Regions from separate parts of the Homo sapiens genome. Here regions 1 and 3 are each linked to region 2. The links come from fine-mapping of genetic effects on gene expression. A gene starts in region 2. Each other region holds a variant in brackets. All regions are shown on one strand. Distances are between the middles of the regions.

Evidence for each region. PIP is the estimated chance that this variant, and not a neighbour inherited with it, causes the effect.
Region 1: its variant is the best candidate, but not a certain one, in a credible set for the expression of PRKCB in monocytes after LPS (Kim-Hellmuth 2017, PIP 0.51).
Region 3: its variant is the best candidate, but not a certain one, in a credible set for the expression of PRKCB in whole blood (INTERVAL, PIP 0.75).

The regions. Positions count from the first base shown.
Region 1 is chr16:23,917,012-23,919,821 of GRCh38, reverse strand. All of the region lies in intron 2 of PRKCB (protein kinase C beta), which reads right to left. Among named protein-coding and RNA genes, the nearest start is that of PRKCB, 82 kb to the right of the region's middle. The variant A/T (reference allele first, on the strand shown) is at 1,415.
Region 2 is chr16:23,834,695-23,837,344 of GRCh38, reverse strand. PRKCB (protein kinase C beta) reads right to left here and starts at 1,362. Exons shown (of 17, transcript NM_002738.7): 1 at 997-1,362. The coding sequence starts at 1,169. RefSeq lists enhancers at 257-396, 660-1,205, 1,206-1,753 and silencers at 707-786, 1,117-1,196, 1,227-1,866.
Region 3 is chr16:23,925,427-23,928,236 of GRCh38, reverse strand. All of the region lies in intron 2 of PRKCB (protein kinase C beta), which reads right to left. Among named protein-coding and RNA genes, the nearest start is that of PRKCB, 91 kb to the right of the region's middle. The variant G/A (reference allele first, on the strand shown) is at 1,467.

The sequences.
Region 1 (2,810 bases), 82 kb before region 2:
CGCAACAATGTGGATCAACCTTGATAACGTTACACAAAGAAAGAAATCTTAAGATGACAAATACTGGATGATTCCACTTATATGAGATACCTATAGTATTCAAATTCATAGAGACAAAGTAGAATGGTGGTGGCCATGGGGTGGAGGAAGAGGGAATGGAGAATTGTTGAGTTTTGAGTTTGAGAAATGATAGAGTTTTTGAGTTTTGCAAGATAAAGAAGTTCTGGAGATCTATAGCACAACAATGTGATCCTACTTTCTGGCATCTGCAATGATAGCATGTTGCTTGTGTACTAAGAAAAACTAATAAAATATGATCCATTTCAAAATATAGAGATATCTGGTTATATAGCAAAGATCATGAAAATATATTCAGGAACCCTATCCGGTATTTTTGTCAGACTCCAGGAAATTTTGGAGGTTTTTTTTTTTTTGCAAATTCGTCCATGACTCTGTTCTAACATAAGCCTCAGTATTCAAAGCATATTCACATAGTATCTTTCCAAATGTGTTTTATAAGTAGTATAATTTGATTTGGTTTTGGATGTATCCTAGGGAATATTCCAAAAGTAATAGAGCTATAGTTACTTTTGTGCAGAAATTTTCTCTACTGCTGGATCCTTAACAACTTATATCCCTTACATCACACTGTGATGAAGGCTCAAAGATATACTTGATGGATAACACATTTACATAACCCTTTAAAAAATACGTGTTAATTTAAACAACAAAATGAATGTTTCATCTTTGAAATAGTCACCTTAGAAGGTTTAATAAAGAAAACTGTATCTAAACGGAATTTCTAAAGAGGATACTAGAAACATGTTTGAGCCATGACAAGTTCCTTAGAATAAGTGAATAGCCAGATTATGCTCAAAGCAAGTCATCTCAATCCTTAATCATAAAAGTATTAAAGCTATGAACTTATCTGCAAGCACAGCATTGGCTGATCTTATCCATTGTTTTATATAGCACTCTATTTTTTTTCATTTATAGCCTCTCTGCAATTGTACTTTTGAGTCCTATTTAACTCAATAGTTATTTAAGAAAATATTTTTAATTGCTTGATGCTTAGATTTGATTAGATATTAGTTTCATTTCATCTCTTACAAAAGTAACACAAAAGGCCTGGCATGGTGCCTCATGCCTGTAATCCCAGCACTTTGGGAGGCCGAGGCGGGTGGATTACTTGAGCCCAGGAGTTCGAGACCAGCCTGGCCAACATGGCAAGACCCCACCTCTACTAAAAATACAAATATTAGTTAGGCCTGGTGGTGTGTGCCTGTAGTCCCAGCTACTCGGGTGGCTGAGGCACGAGAATCTCTTGAGCCCAGGAGGTGGAGGTTGCAGTGAGCCAAGATCACGCCAATTCACTCCAACTTGGGTGACAGAGTGAAACTCTATTTCAAAAAAA[A/T]AAAAATAATAATAATAATAATAATAAAAAGGTAACACAAAGAACAAGTCTTTAATAATGGAAACTTAATCATGTGAAGTTGACTGAAATTTAGGGAAAAGATAAGTATCTTCTAGTAGACCTCACCTACTCTGTGAAGGACAGACCATTATTTCCTATGTCTTCCCATAGAAACCCCCACTGCTTCTCCATCACCACCATCCCAGTTTTGCTTTACATCTTTGTTGGCTCCCTCCCATCCCTCCAAGTGTCAAAACATCCCCCATCCCCAAGTCAAACTGCCCCTCTTGTTTAGAGATTCACAAAACAATCCCCAGCCGGCTCTAAGAAGTCTTTTGCTGTTCTTGCTGATAAACCCCATTTTATTCATTCCCCATATTTTCCTCTCATCTTAGTAATTTGAAATGTTTCCTTGACATATGCAAAATATTCAGGGCTAGTCACGTAAGATCACCAAGAAAGACAAAGAAACCAAATGTGAAATGCGTTGATTAGTCCTCCACACCCTGCCTTCCCTTTGGAGGCAAATGTGTTTCTAAGACAGACACGAAATTTTCTCTTGCTTTGAGTCAGCTTTACGAGATCACTTACCCTCTGATACCCACTAATGTCTTGCCAGAAACTGCAAAAAACATCTGATCCTCTCTCTGGGCCTGCGATGAAACCTTTCCTCAACCAAGTAGAAATGAATGGCAGTGCCTCTGTTTTAAATGTGGTCCATCTGGAGAACTGCAGAGAAGTCACAAATGGCCTTCCACCAGTGACCGCCACCTGGCATGGGGCTCACCAGCTCTGCTTTGTCCTTGTCACTCAGGCCTGTGGAGGCCAATCCCATTCATAATCGAGAGCTGCAGTCCCTCCTAATCTCCGAATGGACATCCTTCCTCCAGTCACCCCAGGCCAGGTCATATGAACAAGGAGCTTGGACAGAACCACAGGAAGGGTTTCTGAGTCAATATATCCCAATTTTGGAAACACCCCAGGGATGCCCATACTATGGACCACGATGCAATCATAAAACAGAATGAGGTGGCCGGGCGTGGTGGCTCACGCCAGTAATCCCAACCCTTTGGGAGGCAGGTGGATCATCTGAAGTCAGGAGTTTGAGACCAGCTCGGGCAACATGGCAAAACCCTATCTCTACTAAAAACACAAAAATTAGCCGGGTGTGGTAGCACACACCTGTAATCCCAGCTAGTCAGGAAACTGAGGTGGAAGAATCACATGAACCTGGAAAGTGGAGGTTGCAGTGACCCAAGACCACTGCACTCCGGTCTGGGCAACAGAGCGAGACTCTGTCTCAAAAAATAAATAAATAAAAATAGAATGAGACATTGGGTGCAGTGGCTCACTCTTGTAACCCCAACACTTTGGGAGGCCCAGGTGACCCTATCAC
Region 2 (2,650 bases):
CAGCCCGGGGGGCCCAGCCTCCAGCTAGTTACCCACAGAGTCACCCGCCTTCCTCCCTGCCTCTGTACCCCAGGTGCAAACTCCCAGCCACAGGCGGGTGCCCAAGAGTCTTCCGCCTTTGTGGGGGTAGGTGGGAGCTCGGCTGTAACCCCCATCTGCCTTCACTCCTGCAGAAGAGAGGAGGCTGCGACCACCAGGTGGCGGGATAGTGGGGAGCGTTTCCGTCGGGGTAGGGGCTGAAGGCAGGCGACAGATGTACCCATAGATGCCCCGAGCACCCTCGGGAAAAGAGAAGAGATAAAGACGCATTCAGAGGGAGGGCGAGAGTGACCCCGCGGCGGTGGTGTCCTCTGGGAGGGGGACTGGGAAGGAGGAAAGGATGCCCCACTACTGGAGGGACTGGGGAAGAAAGGGGCCCGCAGTGATGTGACCGAGGAGTGGAAAGGGGAACCCAGGCCCTCGGGGAGGGGCAATGGGAGATAACACAGGGCGCTGCCCGGAGGCACAGAGGAGTGAGAAAGGATGTCCCATGCCCGCAGGGAGATAGAGAAGGACACCCAGGGCGCCGCCCCCCCCGGAAACAAGGGGTGGGGGGCGAGGGCTCCTCGCGCCCGGAAGCAGGCGGAGAGATAGGGAACCCCGGGTCGGAGAGCACCCGAGGCGCTGCCCTCCAGGGCAGGCACAGACCCCGCGCGCTCCTAGTCAGGTGGAGCAAAGGCTCCCGCGACGCCGCCCCTGGGCGCTCTAGAGGCGCCTGAGAGCAGGAGAGGGCAGGAGGCGCCCCGCGGCGGCCCGTCTGGGACCAGGGTGGGGACAGGGCAACGGCAGGACTGTCCATCCGGGAGTCCCGGGCAGCAGGGTCCGGAGCCGGGAGTCCGGAGACGCGGGGTCCCAGGGTGCGGAGGGCGCGGAGGGCGCAGAGGGCGCGGAGAGGGGGTCCCTGGCGCGGCGCTGCCCTCGGGGGCCCGGGAAGGTGCCCTGCGCGCGCGCGCTCACCAGATGAAGTCGGTGCAGTGGCTGCAGAAGGTGGGCTGCTTGAAGAAGCGGGCGGTGAATTTGTGGTTCTTGACCTCATGCACGTTCTTCTGCCGGAGGGCGCCTTTGCGGGCGAAGCGCACGGTGCTCTCCTCGCCCTCGCTCGGCGGCGGCCCCGCAGCCGGGTCAGCCATCTTGCGCGCGGGGAGCCGGAGCCCGAGAGGTGCCGGCCCCGGGGCCGCGGGACCGCGGGCTGCGGGCCGGGGAGGCGCGGGAGGCGGCGGCCGCTGCTGCACCCGGGGCCGCGGGCGCTTCCCCTGCGCCGGCTCTGGCGGCCGCGGCGCGCGGAGCCGGGGCTGTCACTCGCCCAGCTGCTGCCGCTCGTCCAGCTGCGCTTGGCACCGCTGGCCCCAGCTGCGGGGGAGGGAGGCGGAGCCCCGGGCCAGCCCCGCCCTCCTCATTTGCATCGCGCCCAGGCCCCGCCCAGCGCTGCCAGCTGCTTTACATATCGGCGCCCGGGCTACCGCGGGCCTCGCGGCTAAGCGTGCACAGCCGCAGCTCTGCAGCGCCGGGACCGCAGCCCGGGGTCGTCGGACCCGAGCCTCGCCCCCCACCCCACCCCGTCCTCGGCCCCCGGGGCTGCGTTCAGGAGATGTGCCCAGGGGAGGAGCGAGAGTGGAAAGACCTACGGGGCGAAGGGGAGCGGGTGGAAGGGGTGGGGCGCAGCGAATTCCACCCCGGCCTCTGCGGAGACTGGTACCCATCCACCCCCATCCATCCCATTGGTCATTCTGCACGCGTCTCCTGGAGGGATGGGCTCCCGCTGTCACTCATTCGGAAAGGCTTGTGGCCGCACACACTTACACACACATACACACACACGTTCTGCAGAGGTAGGGGAGGAGCGATCTTTATTTTATATGTCTCTAACTCCACCACAGAGAAGATTCTTGGCTTTGCTTGCCTCCTGCACGTTTGGAAGAGAACTCCCTACCTTCTGTCCATCCCCTCTGCAAAACGACTCCGTTTCCCCAACTGTAACATAGGGCTAATAGTGTGGGGAGGAAGGATTTCAGTAGATCAATATTTTTCCAAATTTCATTCATTTCTGACTCGTCTTCACAAATTCTGGTCGTATTTGTGCACCCTCTGGGGGAAAAAAAGCCTATCTCTTTTGGTCTGAGTTTGAACAGCAAGAGGTATCTACATTATTAAAATATCTCCAGGTGCCGTCATCTGTCCTAAGCATCTTCGACTGAAGTCATCTTTTATTTGTTAAGAGAGGAAATTAATAAATGCTAGAGGGGTGTTAAAGACATTACTATCCAACCAGGACTCTCTCCTTGATGTGATCTGAAGGTAACTGAAAGGGTAATAATTGTCTACAATGTGTAATTCAATGTTATTTAGCGCCCTGTTCATGCACAAGGCCTAAAGATACCCACTGCCACCATGTCCCCCACTCTGGGAACGCAGAGCTTCATTAGGCTGTGAGCTCCTTCACCAGACCTAGGCTCTGTGAGAGCAGGGGGGCTGTTCACCACCATGTCGCCCAGCACCAAGCTCAGTGCCTGACACCTCCCAAGACCCCAGTAAATATTGGTTGATTGAGTGAGGGCATGGATGAACAAGTGAATGAATGAAGACTTAAAGGTCGGCACTTCTTACCCCCACT
Region 3 (2,810 bases), 91 kb before region 2:
GGAGAATTGCTTGAACCTGGGAGGTGGAGGTTGCAGTGAGCTGAGATCATGCCATTGCACTCCAGCCTGGGCAACAAGAGTGAAACACCATCTCAAAAAAATAAAAATAAAAAATAAACGTCTGTGGAAACAGCCCTATACATTCTTTCATTTCTATATATTTCAAGAGTATTTCCAAAGCCAGTATTCCCAGCCTGGGCCCCTCCTCTCTTCTCGCCTGAATCTACATGAGCTCTTGGCAAAACCCCAGCACACTCCATGACTGCAATGACTACTGATGTGCAGCTAAGGCTCAGATCTCCACCCTGAGCCCAGATCCACGCCCTAAGCCCCAAGATATCCACACGCCAACTGGTCTGTGCCATTTGGACACCAACTAGGTGTCTAAAAGGGAGACAGCCTTCCCTCAAAACATGTTCCTCCTCCCATGGTTCTATCTCTGTCAAAAGCACCACCAGCGCACCTAGTACCCAAGCCAGAAACCAGGGAGCCATCCCTGACTTTCTCATTCCTCCCACGCCAAATCAATCACTAAGTTCTCTCAATAACACCCCCTAAATATCTCTTGAATCTTCCATCCACCTCTCTCCTTCCTCACCACCACTCAGGCGTCCTCAAGTCCTGCCTAGATTACTACCACCGCCTCCTAACCCAAGATCCTTCCTCCAGCCTTGTCACTGTGAAATTCATTTTTAACGGCAGCCAGAGTGGTTTCTAAAAGACAAATCTAATCATGTAATGCTTAGAAAAAAGAAAAGGCTCTGTACTCTCAGAATAAAATGTACACACTCTTTCATAGGACAGATGAGCCCTTTATGACAGGGTTCCTTACTTCCTTTTCTCTGAGCTTGTCCCTAAACACATCCCCTACCCTGAAAATACACAAACATGCCCTTCATTCCAGCCATGCCAAAGTGATTTTGGTTCTTCAATCCTCTTGTGCTTTTGTATATACTATTTCCTCTGCCTGGAGCACTCTCCCCCTTCTTTCCACATCCTCCTTTACTTAGTTAAACCTGTCATCCTTAAGGTGGGACTTTGATATCATTTAGTCCTGGAAGCCTTCCTGATGCCTTCAATTAAGCACCCAACTCTACGCTCACACCATGCGCTTACAGCCATCACAGCACATATCTCACCGTACAGGCACCTGCCTGGTTAGCCATCTGCATTCTTTACCAGACAATAATTTTGGTAATAGCAGAGGCTACGCCTGTTGTGTTCACTGTGAGACACCTCAGCACCACCACCACCATACGCAGTAAGAAGTATTCAATAAATACTTTAATGGATAAATAAATCGACCAATGTATACATCGAAGCTTTTGAGAAAACTTGCTTTTAAAAATCTGGCAGGACAATTTTTTGAAGCTTGGGAGCTGCCTTGTAGACTGAGATCTTTTACCTGAATTTTGGGCAGCTATCCAAAGAAGAAATTATTATATAAAAGATGCCTGCACTCATAC[G/A]TTTATCACAGTACAATAGCAAAGATATGGAATCAACTTAAGCATCAATCAATGGATGACTGGATAAAGAAAATGTATATATATTTATATATACATATATATTAATATACATATCATTGTGTGTATATAGACACACATACCACCATATATATACATATATACACGTATGTGTGTGGTATATGTATGTATATCTATATATACATACACACAATAGAATACTACTCAGCCATAAAAAAGAGTAAGACCTTTGATTTTATTTTTATTTATTTATTTATTATTTATTTTTTTTGAAACAGTCTCACTCTGTCGCCCAGGCTGGAGTGCAGTGGGGCAATCTCGGCTCACTGCAACCTCCACCTCCCGGGTTCAAGTGATTCTTCCACCTCGGCCTCCTGAGTAGCTGGGACTACAGGCACCCGCCATCATGCCCAGCTAATTTTTGTATTTTTGCAGAGATGGGGCTTCACCATGTTGGCAAGGCTGGTCTTGAAGTCCTGACTAAAACAGGGTCTCACTCTGTCACCCAGGCTGGGGGGCAGTTGTGTGATCATAGCTCACTGCAGCCTTGAACTCCTGGGCTCAAGAGATCCTCCTGCCTCAGCCTCTCAAGAAACTGGGACCACAGGTACACAACACGATGCCTGGCTAATTTAATTTTTATAGAGCCGGAGTCTCACCAAGTTGCTCAGGCTGGTTTCAAACTCCTGGGCTCAAGTGATCTTCCTTCGTCAGCCTCCCAGTGTGCTAATATGACAGGCATGAGCCACCATGCCCAGTCTGAAATCATGTCTTTTGCAGCAACAGGATGGAACCCAAAGCCATTATCTTAAAAAAAAAAAACTCAGAAAGAGAAAGTCAAATAATGCATATTCTTAGTTATAAATGGGAACTATATAATACACATAGACACAGAGTATGGAATAATAGTCATTCTCCAATGGCTACTGAATGACTGTTGAGTAATAGTCATCCTTCTTGGAAGGGTTGGGTGGGGGAGTGAAGGATAAGAAATCACTTAATGAGTACAGGGTACCCTATCTGGGTGATGGACATACCAAAAGCACAGATTCTACCACTAAATAACATATCCATGTAACAAAATTGCACTTGTGCCTTCTCAATTTATACAAGTAAAAACTTTTTTTAAAAAATTTAAGAAGTCCTCATGTTTGGAAGAGAGACAGGATGACCTCAGACAGGGATGCTGGGTTTCGGCACTTCAAGGCTGACAAGACAATGTCAAGAATGGAGTCCTTGGATCCCCAGTCCCCTAGAAATGGGATGCAAGCTCTCTGTCCTTGGAAACGGCCAACCTTAAGAACACAGGCATCCTGGTTAACGAGA